3 linked regions of the Homo sapiens genome follow. The protein of the gene in region 1 purifies or fractionates together with the protein of each later gene. This does not show direct contact. Each region holds a gene or a part of one and is shown in the gene's direction. Other genes may lie near its edges.

What was found.
Region 2: the proteins of TRHDE (region 1) and TMTC3 purify together in Homo sapiens (affinity purification with mass spectrometry; one large-scale study listed by BioGRID and IntAct). This does not show direct contact.
Region 3: the proteins of TRHDE (region 1) and KIRREL1 purify together in Homo sapiens (affinity purification with mass spectrometry; one large-scale study listed by BioGRID and IntAct). This does not show direct contact.

What each region holds. Positions count from the first base shown.
Region 1 is NC_000012.12:72,275,357-72,279,012, forward strand, and holds part of TRHDE (thyrotropin-releasing hormone-degrading ectoenzyme), read left to right. Parts: intron 1-3,656. UniProt on the Homo sapiens protein: Specific inactivation of TRH after its release.
Region 2 is NC_000012.12:88,190,739-88,194,394, forward strand, and holds part of TMTC3 (protein O-mannosyl-transferase TMTC3), read left to right. Parts: intron 1-1,865; coding exon 1,866-2,092; intron 2,093-3,656. UniProt on the Homo sapiens protein: Transfers mannosyl residues to the hydroxyl group of serine or threonine residues.
Region 3 is NC_000001.11:158,084,102-158,087,757, forward strand, and holds part of KIRREL1 (kin of IRRE-like protein 1 isoform 1 precursor), read left to right. Parts: intron 1-320; coding exon 321-478; intron 479-2,494; coding exon 2,495-2,645; intron 2,646-3,653; coding exon 3,654-3,656. UniProt on the Homo sapiens protein: Required for proper function of the glomerular filtration barrier. It is involved in the maintenance of a stable podocyte architecture with interdigitating foot processes connected by specialized cell-cell junctions, known as the slit diaphragm.

The sequences.
Region 1 (3,656 bases):
TAGTTAAAACCTCCTATAAGTGAATGTATAAATTATTCACTTTCTTACTCCTGACATTAGATATGGATATTTTAAACCCCCTTCTACCACTTCCTCCAACATGTTCTAAAGAATACAGATTAAAAATATTTTTTAAACCCAGAATTATGTCAAATACGGGGGAAAGGCATAGAAAACAAATTTGCATACTATGTTTAGGAACAAGCTTCTTAGGTCAAAATGTCAATAGTGGGAGTTGCATATCATTACTGATACATCTTGCTGCAGTGAAATAAATGCTTTTGAAAAATCCTGTTTTTTGAGCCATGCCAAAATATGTTTGGCAGAACTGAGCTTGTTTTGGTCAATGCTTTCAAATTAACAGGACTCTTAAAAAGACCAGATGTTTCTGCTTGAACCGTAACTGATTTCTTGTACCCCTAGTGCGTATTTGTACTCAAACTCTCTTGCAGTTTTCCCCAAAGAAGTAAACAACTTGGTTGGAAGTTCAACCTAGTTAACATATAGTTAAACTCTTCATCCCAATAGAAATGCAGAACTCAGTGTTCTGAAAATCCCAGGATTGTTTTATTTCTAAACAGCATCTTAGAGAAAGTCCTTGTTCTTCATTTTTTTTTCCTTCCTCATTATTATTATTAGAGTAAATCTTATAATTTCTTGGATGTTTCTACTGGAGTTGATAAGACAAAAGAAATAAATCTAATAAACCATTTCATAGTTATGCAAACTTTCTATTTATTAAACATTTTTTGTTACTATAGCCACTTGGAGCATGGAGCATTTTTAAACAGACCCATATCAGCATCTCAGCTAGGGTTGGACTTTTATGTTGTCCACAAAATGCAATGTAAATTGGCATTTTAAAACCCACTTTCAAATAGGACGCAGATGCAAGCACTGAATTTTCATTTGATTAATGATTAAACATTTTGGTTTTTAGTTAGATATAATTTTGCCAATTTAATTATAGGGTAATGTCTGTAATAAAAACAAATATGTAATCTGATAAAGGAAGTCATATTGAGCAACTTGAAATGCTTAAAACAGCAATACTACAGTGCAGTCCACTTCTCTTAGCCTATGTGGAAACACTAACTCATTAAAATCCTATCAGTCTGATTCTTCAACTTGCTTCTCAGAGACCTGAGCAAAAGAATTTTGGTGACGGCAGGGAAATTAGATTCTACTGTGTGCTATATACCTTGGACCCCTGGAAGGTTTTACCCACCTCTGGGTGTTGTAAGTAGCCTGGCTTTGTACAACTGGGAAGACTTGCTTTTCCTGATTTCCATACTGTAATGTACAAAGGTTAGAAGACGAGCTCCCTCTTGAAGCCCAAGTTTTCCCAAGTTGAGACAAATTCTCTACTCTTGGTTACTACAGTTGTTGAACATTGAAAATAAATTCTCCTAAAATCCACATGTCTACACACCAATAAGTAAATTAGGCAGAATACATACTCACTTTTTCATCAACTAGGTGTGCAGCAGGCAGATAAAAATGGGTGTGTATTTATGCTGTAGTCTCCGACAAAAGAGTATGCTTGCTTAGAATTAGGTAAAATGTCCGTTTACCTGAAATAATTGCCACTTTTGGGTAGCCAGATGGTGAGCGCACCCGTGTTCAAAGTAGGGTACCTTAATTTAGATCCAGATGGTTGAATTGAAAGGGAAATATAGCCAAGATAAAGAACATTTTGTTCACTTTCAAAAGGGAGACTGTTTTTCTTTGACAAACTTTAATAGGGTCTATAACATGCCAAAGTGAGACGACATTAAAAATATGAGGTCCTTTTCTATAAAGGATTGTTTAGAGAGAAACTATAGTCTCCAAGTAAAATGGGAAAATAATAGTGGTAGTTCTCAAAGAGAATTGGGACCATCCTTTTGCAAAAATCTTGGGGAGAGAATGGAGGATTTTATCTCTGGGTAGGCATTTGCTCTACTGTGGTATTTGTGTGATCTGATGCCTTGTAATTTACTCAGAATGAATTAATACTCATGGTATTTAATACAAACAAGAAATTCACTACATTATTTTTAGATCGAAAGCAACTTCATTTCTCCCATTCACTTCGGTAAGAAGATAGCTTAACATGAGCAAGTAGGAGTATATTGCTTTTTGTCCCTCTATAGAGGACTGTGAACTGAAAAAAATCTTTGAGAACCATTTGTTTCTGTAAAAACTTTTTTCTGTGATTCCTTAATGGACTTAGCTCATTGTTTTTGTGTCAGGCTCACATAACCATATGGCAAAACTGAGTTCAGTGCTGGATTTTGAACACAATTCAAAATGCCACCAGTAAACCGTATCTAGACAATGTTTACTAAAAAAAAAGCTCTGACCATGTAATAATGACTCACTCAGGGAGAAAATCTATGCAATTGGTGTTTGTCTTTCTGTGTTTCCTGTAGTGCCATTTGATTTGATCACCCTGGATAATAATTAAATATACAGTTTTTTCAAATTAATTGACATAAAATTGTGTATATTTATCTTGTATAATCTAATGTTTTGAAGTATGCATACATTTGGAACAAATGTAGTTAATTAACAAATGCATCATCTCATATAGCTATTTTTGTGGTGAGAATGTTTAACATCTACTCTCAGCAGTTTTCAAGAATATAATATATTGTCATTAATTATAGTCACCTTGCTTTACAATAAGTCCCTTGAACTTATTCCTTTTTTCTAAGTAATTATATATCCTTTGACCAGTAACTCCTCAACTCCATTCTTCCCCTAACCTCTTATTATCTGGTAAACATTATTCTACTCTCTAATTCAGTGAGGTCAACTTTTTTAGTTTCCACATATTACTGAGATCATGCAATATTTGTCTTTTTGTGCCTGGCTTATTCACTTACATGAAGTCTTCCAGTTCATCCATGTTGTCTCAAATGACAGGATTTCCTTCTGTTTATGGCTGAATGGTATTTCATTAGTGTATGTATACATTTTCTTTATCCATCCATTCATTGATGAACTCTTAGGTTGGTTCTGTATCTCGGCTACTGTGAATAATGCTGCAATAAACATGTTGCAGATATCTCCTCAACATGATGATTTCTTTTTCTTTGGATATATAATCCACCAGTAGTGGGATTGCCAGATCATATGGTAGTTCTATTTTTAATTTTTTGATGAACCTCCATACTGTTTTCCATAATGGCTGTACTAATTTATAGTGTACTCATTTTCACCAACAGTGTACAAGGGTTCTTTTTGCTGCACATCCTTGCTAACAGTTGTTATCTTTTGTCTATTTGATAATAGCCATTCTTACAGGTGTGAGTTGACATCTCACTGTGGTTGCATTTCCCTGATGATAAGTCATGTTGAACATTTTTCATATACCGGTTGGCCATTTGTATGTCTTATTTTGAGAAATTTTCATTCAGGTCTTTTGCCCACTTTAAAAAATCAGATTTTGTTTTTTCTTGCTATTGAGTTGTTTGATTTCATTATATGTTTTGGTCATTAATCACTTATCAGATGTACAGACTGCGAATATTTTCTCCCATTCTATAGGTTGTCTTTTTACTTTACTGTTTATTGTCTTTGCTGTGCAGAAACATTTTAGTTTGATGCAATCCCGTTTGTCTATTTTTTGCTTTTGTTGCCTGTGCAGTTGCCTTTGTTTTTATTTATTC
Region 2 (3,656 bases), about 16 Mb from region 1:
GCAACCAAGTGCATAGAAGAGCATAACTTTTTAGACTGACAGTCAGATTTTATTGATTTGAAATTAACAAGGGGAATCCCTAACTTGTAATAGCCAACTTAGGTTTTGTATTAAGGAAAGGGTAGAAGCAGCTCTGTCTTAGTTGCATTTTCTTCCCATCACCAAAATTGTTCTTTTCCTATTTAAATTAAAACTTGAAACTTACATTTTATAATAGTTACTTCTAATATCAAACTCTCAGGAACTTTCTTGTTTTTAGAGTTGATTGGTTATTGATGCCTTTGACACAAAGAAAACATCTTGGTTCTCAGCAAAAAAAAAAGTTTTCTGGCACCACATGTTAAAACTTCATTTATTTTCTCATGTATGTGTTATCATTTGTATTACTTTTGAGGAAAAATGTGTTTTTAAACTTCGTTTTGTAGCCTGGTCCAGAAAACTAATAGTAATTTGTAACATTTTTTCCTTTGGGGAAAGTACATTCTGAATTTAAGTTTTTGAGATAAAATCTGTTTGTAAGTTGGGGTTTTCTTTGTTCCGCCGTGCCTATTGAGTTTATTAGCAGGGTTGTATCTATAAATAACACCTGTCATGTATTAATTCATAAAGAACTATTCAACAATCTCTACATTAAAAAAATAATATTTTGGACAAACATTCATTCTAGAAGTGGTTTTAATGAGAATATTAATTGTTGTTCCTTTTATTTCTGTGCTGATACTATAGGAAAGAGTAGTATTATAAGAACAACTCTCATATCACTACTTAAATATTATTTGTACATATGTAAAAATAATTCTTTAAGCAAAATTACTTTTTAAAATTTTCTAACAGAAAATAGAACCACACTAGAAAGATTTATACAATGGTTTCTTAACTGGTCCTCAATTCTAAGTGTGTTCCTCAAAGTTATCTACAGGTCAGATTAATCCCTCCCACTCTACCTGTTCAGCTTTTTTTTAGTCCTTTTTCTGTTTGTTTGTTTGTTTGTGACAGAGTCTCACATTGTTACCCAGGCTGGAGTGCAGTGGTGTGATCTCGGCTAACTGCTACCTCTGCCTCCTGGGTTCAAGTAATTCTTGTTCCTCAGCCTCACTATTAGCTGGGACTACAGGCGCGTGCCACCATGCCTGGCAAATTTCTGTATTTTTAGTAGAGACAGAGTTTTGCCATGTTGGTCAGCTGGTCTCCAACTCCTGACCTCAAGTGATCTGCCCACCTCAGCCTCCCAAAGTGCTGGGATTACAGGAACGAGCCACCATGCCCAGCATTTTTCTTTTTTTTTTTTTCTTTTTTTTTTTTAAGAATGGTCGTATTATAAGAAGACATTGATGAGGACTAAATTAATATAAGAAGGGGTTACAGATTTTTAATATTTTGGTTTTTTGCATAGTGAGCCTTCTATTATACATTCAAATATTGGAATTTCTCTTACCACTACTATATGTCATTTTTTTCTTCTAATGCTGTTATTTTGTCACCTGACAAATTCATTAATCTTTCACTCTGGCTAGCTGCCCTTTTTCTGATGCAGTTTAGTCTGTCTCCTTTTTAAGATAAAGTCAAAGAATATATTTGCTCTGTCCTCCTTCCTGGATTCCTCCTGATAGGTTGCCCTCTGAAATCAGGCATAATTTTTTTCTTCTTAAATAATATTTGAAAATATATCAAGCCAAATATACTGAACTAAGGAGTTCAGATTTGAGGACAGTTTCAAAGAGTTGTTTTCGAAAGAGAGTTTTTTAAGAGTCTGAGTTAAGAGAAAAAAAAGCTGTATGTGGAAAGGCTTAAAACTTGGCAAAAATTGTATCTACAAACTGAGATGGTAATGTTGTAAGTAAAGCTTGTGTTTGATTTTTCCACAGAGGAGAATTGCTTTTAAAAATGAATAAACCTCTTAAAGCAAAGGAAGCATATCTTAAAGCACTAGAGCTGGACAGAAATAATGCAGATCTTTGGTACAACTTGGCAATTGTACATATTGAACTTAAAGAACCAAATGAAGCCCTAAAAAACTTTAATCGTGCTCTGGAACTAAATCCAAAGCATAAACTAGCATTATTCAACTCTGCTATAGTAATGCAAGAATCAGGTATGTTTTCTCAAAATATTTCTGTTTATATAAATTGTAGTTTATAATATAATAAGACCTTAATTTAACTTTATTACCCATAGCAAACACTTTATGTATTGACAGTTTATAGCAATACTGTGCTTAACTGATTTATAGAAAGAATATTTAAAATACTTGAAGTAAACTATTTTCAAGTAACATGCATTCTAACATATGATAATACTGATTTTTAATTCTTCTGGCATGTGTTAAGACTAATTTTTCAGGCAGTCTATTAAGCAACATTAACTATTTTGTCATTTTATATACATAAACATAATGTAACTTATATATAAACTCTCCAAATAATATGAACTTGTGAAATTTTTTACATAATTGGCTGTGAGGAGCCAAGAGCATATGTTTTCAAAAAAATAGCATTTTATTTTCTTTTGATTCATAAGAGCAAATACTTTTGGCACCATTTTATATCCAGTTTTACTACGTTTTCTGAGATGTTGTAATTTTTTATATTTCCTATAATTTAGCAAAACTAAATTATTAACCACAGTAAATCTGGATCCTTCATCCATATTTTATATAGGAATTTCAGTTCTGCCTCATAAGATAGTGTATATGATTTATAATCTTTTTAATTTATAAATTAGAAAAATCTATTATAATGTTTAGTTATTTCTTAGATACATTTCGTAAAACTTTTGTAAAATATGAAAGAATCATAAAGTCGTAGTATTTTAGAGCTAAAGAGGACCTTTGAGTTTGCATTTGCCAGTCTTCTATTTAGTAGAGTGAAAACCAAATAGATTTTATGACTGCCCCAAAGTCATATGGCTAAATAGGTAACCCAAGACAAGAACTGAAGCCTCCTGATTTATTTTCAAATTTTCTTTATCCATCGTGCTGCCAAATAAAAGAATAGAGAGAAGTCTTTATGCCTGGTGTCCAAAAAAGTAGAAATTTGGAGAAAAGCTAATATTTTTGTAAGGTTTTCTACCTTGATAATCATGAAGGATGCTCATTATTCGACACAAGATTGTACTATAAGGTTTGTAATTGTAGAACTTGAACTTTTTTGTTTTTTTGGCTTTTTTTTTGCAATAGAAATTATCTCAATGGAGATTTGTTTCCTGCCAGGCAGTGGCTGATGCCTGTAATCCTAACACTTAGGGAGGCCAGGGTGGGGAGGATCACTAGAGGCCAAGAGTTTGAGAATAGCCTAGGCAACATAGTAAAACTCTGTCTCCACAAAAAATTTTAAAATCAGCAAGAAATGATGGCACATGCCTGTAGTCCCAGCTACTCGGGAAGCCAAGGTGGGAGGATTGCTTGAGCCCAGGAGTTTGAGGTTACAGTGACCTGTGGACACAGCACTGCCCTCCAGCCTGAGTGACATAGTGAGACCCTGTCTCAAAAAAAAGAAGATACATGTTTCCTAAATCCTAATTTTATAGCCCTATATTTAATGGTATGTTTTTGTCCTCGAAACATTCCTAAAACTTTGAAGTAACATTTTTTAAAATGTGATACAGTCATTCTGAAGCTTTTTTCTACCCAGTAATAGTTACTATTTGCTGAACATTTT
Region 3 (3,656 bases), on another chromosome or scaffold:
CCTGGGCGACAGAGTGACACTCCATCTCAAAAACAAACAAACAAACAAACAATAAACCAGTAGGGGCATGGAGTACCAGAAAATATTATAGGCCAGGAAAGAAAAGCAGACAAGGACTGGGAAAGATGTGTGAGCTGAGGACCTAGAGGAAGCCACCACAAGAGCAATGAAGACAGTGGTTGTAGATTAGGGGGTAGGGTGGTACCGCCTACCTAGAGGCGCACATGCAGGTGGAAGGATGCTTCCAGAGGCAGGAGTTTTGGTCTTCAGGGAAGTGTTAGCCACACCCTGCACTGACTTTGCTCTGCTTTCTCCCACAGTCCCCCCAGAGGACACCAGGATTGACGGAGGCCCTGTGATTCTACTGCAGGCAGGCACCCCCCACAACCTCACATGCCGGGCCTTCAATGCGAAGCCTGCTGCCACCATCATCTGGTTCCGGGACGGGACGCAGCAGGAGGGCGCTGTGGCCAGCACGGTGAGCTCCAGCCAGCTCCCCCAGCTCCTCCTGGGCCTAGCCCAGCTCACCTCTCCTTTCCCACAGGGGTTTCACCACAGACTCAGGAGCACACAGACATGAGAGGGGTCTTAGAGGTCATCTGGTTCAACCCTCTCATTCTACAGTTGGGAAAATTGAAACCCAGAGAAGAGAAATGAATTCCTAGGTTTACTGTGTCATTCAGTAGCTGAACAGAGACTAATAGTAATAATAAGTTGCCATGGATTAAGCACCTACTGTGTGCCAGACACCGTGCATGCTAAACACTTTATGGACAGTCTCTCTTAATCTTCATAGGAGTCCCATAAAGGAGGCATTATTTCCAACTCACAAAGGAGGAAACTTGCGCTCAGAGAGGTTGAGTGACTTGTCCAAGGTCACACAGCTGGCACAGAGCGGGGGTTTGTACCTGGGTCTGACTGTGCTTTCTCTCCACTGATCACTTCTACCTCTTTCCTTCAGCGTCTGGTTGTCAGATTATTCCAGTCATCACAACAAAGAGGCTGGGGAAGCAGAGATCCTTGTATACATTTTATAGATGAGGAAGCCATGAAAGATATCAAGTGACTTGCCCAGGATTACATAGCAAAGCGGACAGTACAGCTGGAATTCAAAGCCAGATTTCCTGGTTGGGGTTACCCTGCCAGTTGTGGGTAAACATATGTGTATTCAGCCCTTTGCTGGTGCTGCAGGAGCACTTCTCAGTGTGGAGACAGAGATGTTCCCATGCTCCTCAGCAAGCAATCCCAGGAATACCTGGCTTCTGGCTTCAGTTCTGCCCTTAACACACTGTGTGACCTTGGATAATTCGCTTCACTTTTTTCTGGCCTTAGTTTCTCATTTGACAAATGATAATTCAGCCTCAGTGGTACTTAACCTTTTCACAACCAAAAACTGTGATTTTTCTTCATCAGGGCTACATGTTTTTAGATATTTTGGCAACCAAACAAGTTGGTTTGTTAATATCCATTTGTCATCTACCCCCATTTTTCATATTCATTAAAGACAATGGAGCTTCAAAGCAGCACAAGGGAGCCAGTGTTATTGCACTGGCCCTCAACTGGGCCTGTCCAGCAAAGCTGCATGCATGGTGGTCAAACAACGGGGTCTTACTTTGATTAATAATATGGCTTCCCTCAGGCAGTTTGCAATATAGAAAACAGATCAAGGGTTCCTGTGACCATATTTAGGGACCCCTGGCTGTCACTGAGCAAGTGTAAGACTTCGAGCCTGTGAGTCCCTTCCCTGCCCTCAAGGAGTTTACAGTTTAGCAGAAGAAACCCAACCCTGAAACACGCACACATGGTGCCTACAAGCAAGGTTGGATGTGTCTAGAGCTGTGAGCAGGACACACTGACTATAAGGGCATAAATTCAGTCTGGGAGAGAGTTCTGAGGGCTGGGCTGGCTGAAGAAGGCTTTCCAGAAGAGAAGGGATTTGCGCTGGACTCACAAAGAGTGAACTCTAATATAAACTGTGGCCTTAATAATAATATATTAGTTTCGGTCCATCAGTTGTAACAGACTTATCACTCTAATGCAAGGTGTTAAGGTGTTAGTAATGGGGGAAAGTGTAAGGTCGGGGAGGAGGGTATATGGAAACTCCCTGTACTTTCTGCTCAATTTTTCTGTAAACTTAAAACTGCTCCAAAAGATAGTCTGTGATGTGGGCATGATGGCACACTCCTGTAGTCGCTGCTACTCAGAAGGCTCAGGCAGGAGGATTGCTTGAGTCCAAGCTTTGGAGGCCAGCCTGGGCAACATAGCAAGACCCTAAAAATATATAACTTTTAATTAAAAGATAATTAGTAGTCTATTGATTAAACACACACACACACACACACACACACAAGGGAAGAGGTTGTGGGAGTGAAGGGGATTGAGCTTTAAGTTAAAGTACCCCTCCAGCCCAAGCCCATCTCTGAGTGAGGTCAACTTAAGAGCAGAGGAGGGGGCTTTTAGCTTAACCATATCTCCCACCCTTGTCATGTTCCAGGAATTGCTGAAGGATGGGAAGAGGGAGACCACCGTGAGCCAACTGCTTATTAACCCCACGGACCTGGACATAGGGCGTGTCTTCACTTGCCGAAGCATGAACGAAGCCATCCCTAGTGGCAAGGAGACTTCCATCGAGCTGGATGTGCACCGTGAGTGGGCTGGGGGGAGCAGTCTGGAGCAGGGGGGTGGAAGAAGGGGTGTGTTTGAGAAGCACACTCTTAGTTTGAGAAACACAAACTAAGAGTCCCCCTATGGTCCCCAGGACAAACGCTTGCCTTCTTCACATCTTTCATTCCCTGGATTGAACCATGGGGACTAAGGGCTGGTAGAGCATTGGCTGTGGAGTCAGGCAGTCCCCAGGTCTAAACCAGCCTGTTATTAGTCAATGGTTTACACTCTCTGGGCCTCGGTTTCCAGTTCTGTATACTGTATATTGCAAAAGATAAAATACTGGCCTACAGTCCCTTATTCAAACTAAAAGTGGTTCGATGGTGCAGCCTGAACCAAGGCTCTTCATAGTCTTTTATTTAATTTAGTCTTAAGTTTCACTGCAGATGTATTCATATGTGTGACTATGGGATGTGGCCCAGATGCTGCTGGGGATCTTACACAGTAAACGCTCTATGCACAACCATTGCCTTTCTAAATGTGAAAAATTCTAAATTCTGAAATGCATCTAGTCCTAAGGGTTTCAAATAAGGGATTGTGGACCTGGACCTGCTTCCTGGGGTTGTGAGCATTAAATGAGATATAGCAGAAGAGCATCTAGCATGGAGTATTCTTACCTGGTAGGTGTGTAATAAATTGTCTCTCCCCAGGGAACCATGGGGGTGTGGGCAGCAACTGGGGATGCCCACACCCCATCCTTTTTAGTGAGCCAAGCAAGCTCACACTGACGCCTAGTGGCCACAGTGGGTCATTAGTCCATTGAGTTATTTGTCCCTTTGGTGCCTTCATTGGTGGTCACCCTAGCAGGCCCCCTAGAGGCTCCATGTGCAAAAGGTGAGGAAGACAGTGTGTTAACTGGAGCCGATACACTGCAACCTCAAATTCCTAGATCCCCGCCAGAGTGGTCAGGTCTGAATGTACGTGTTAGGGAGGGAAAAAGAAACTCAAGGGACAGAAAAGACCCTGACTCCCTGTGCTCTACTTTGCAGACC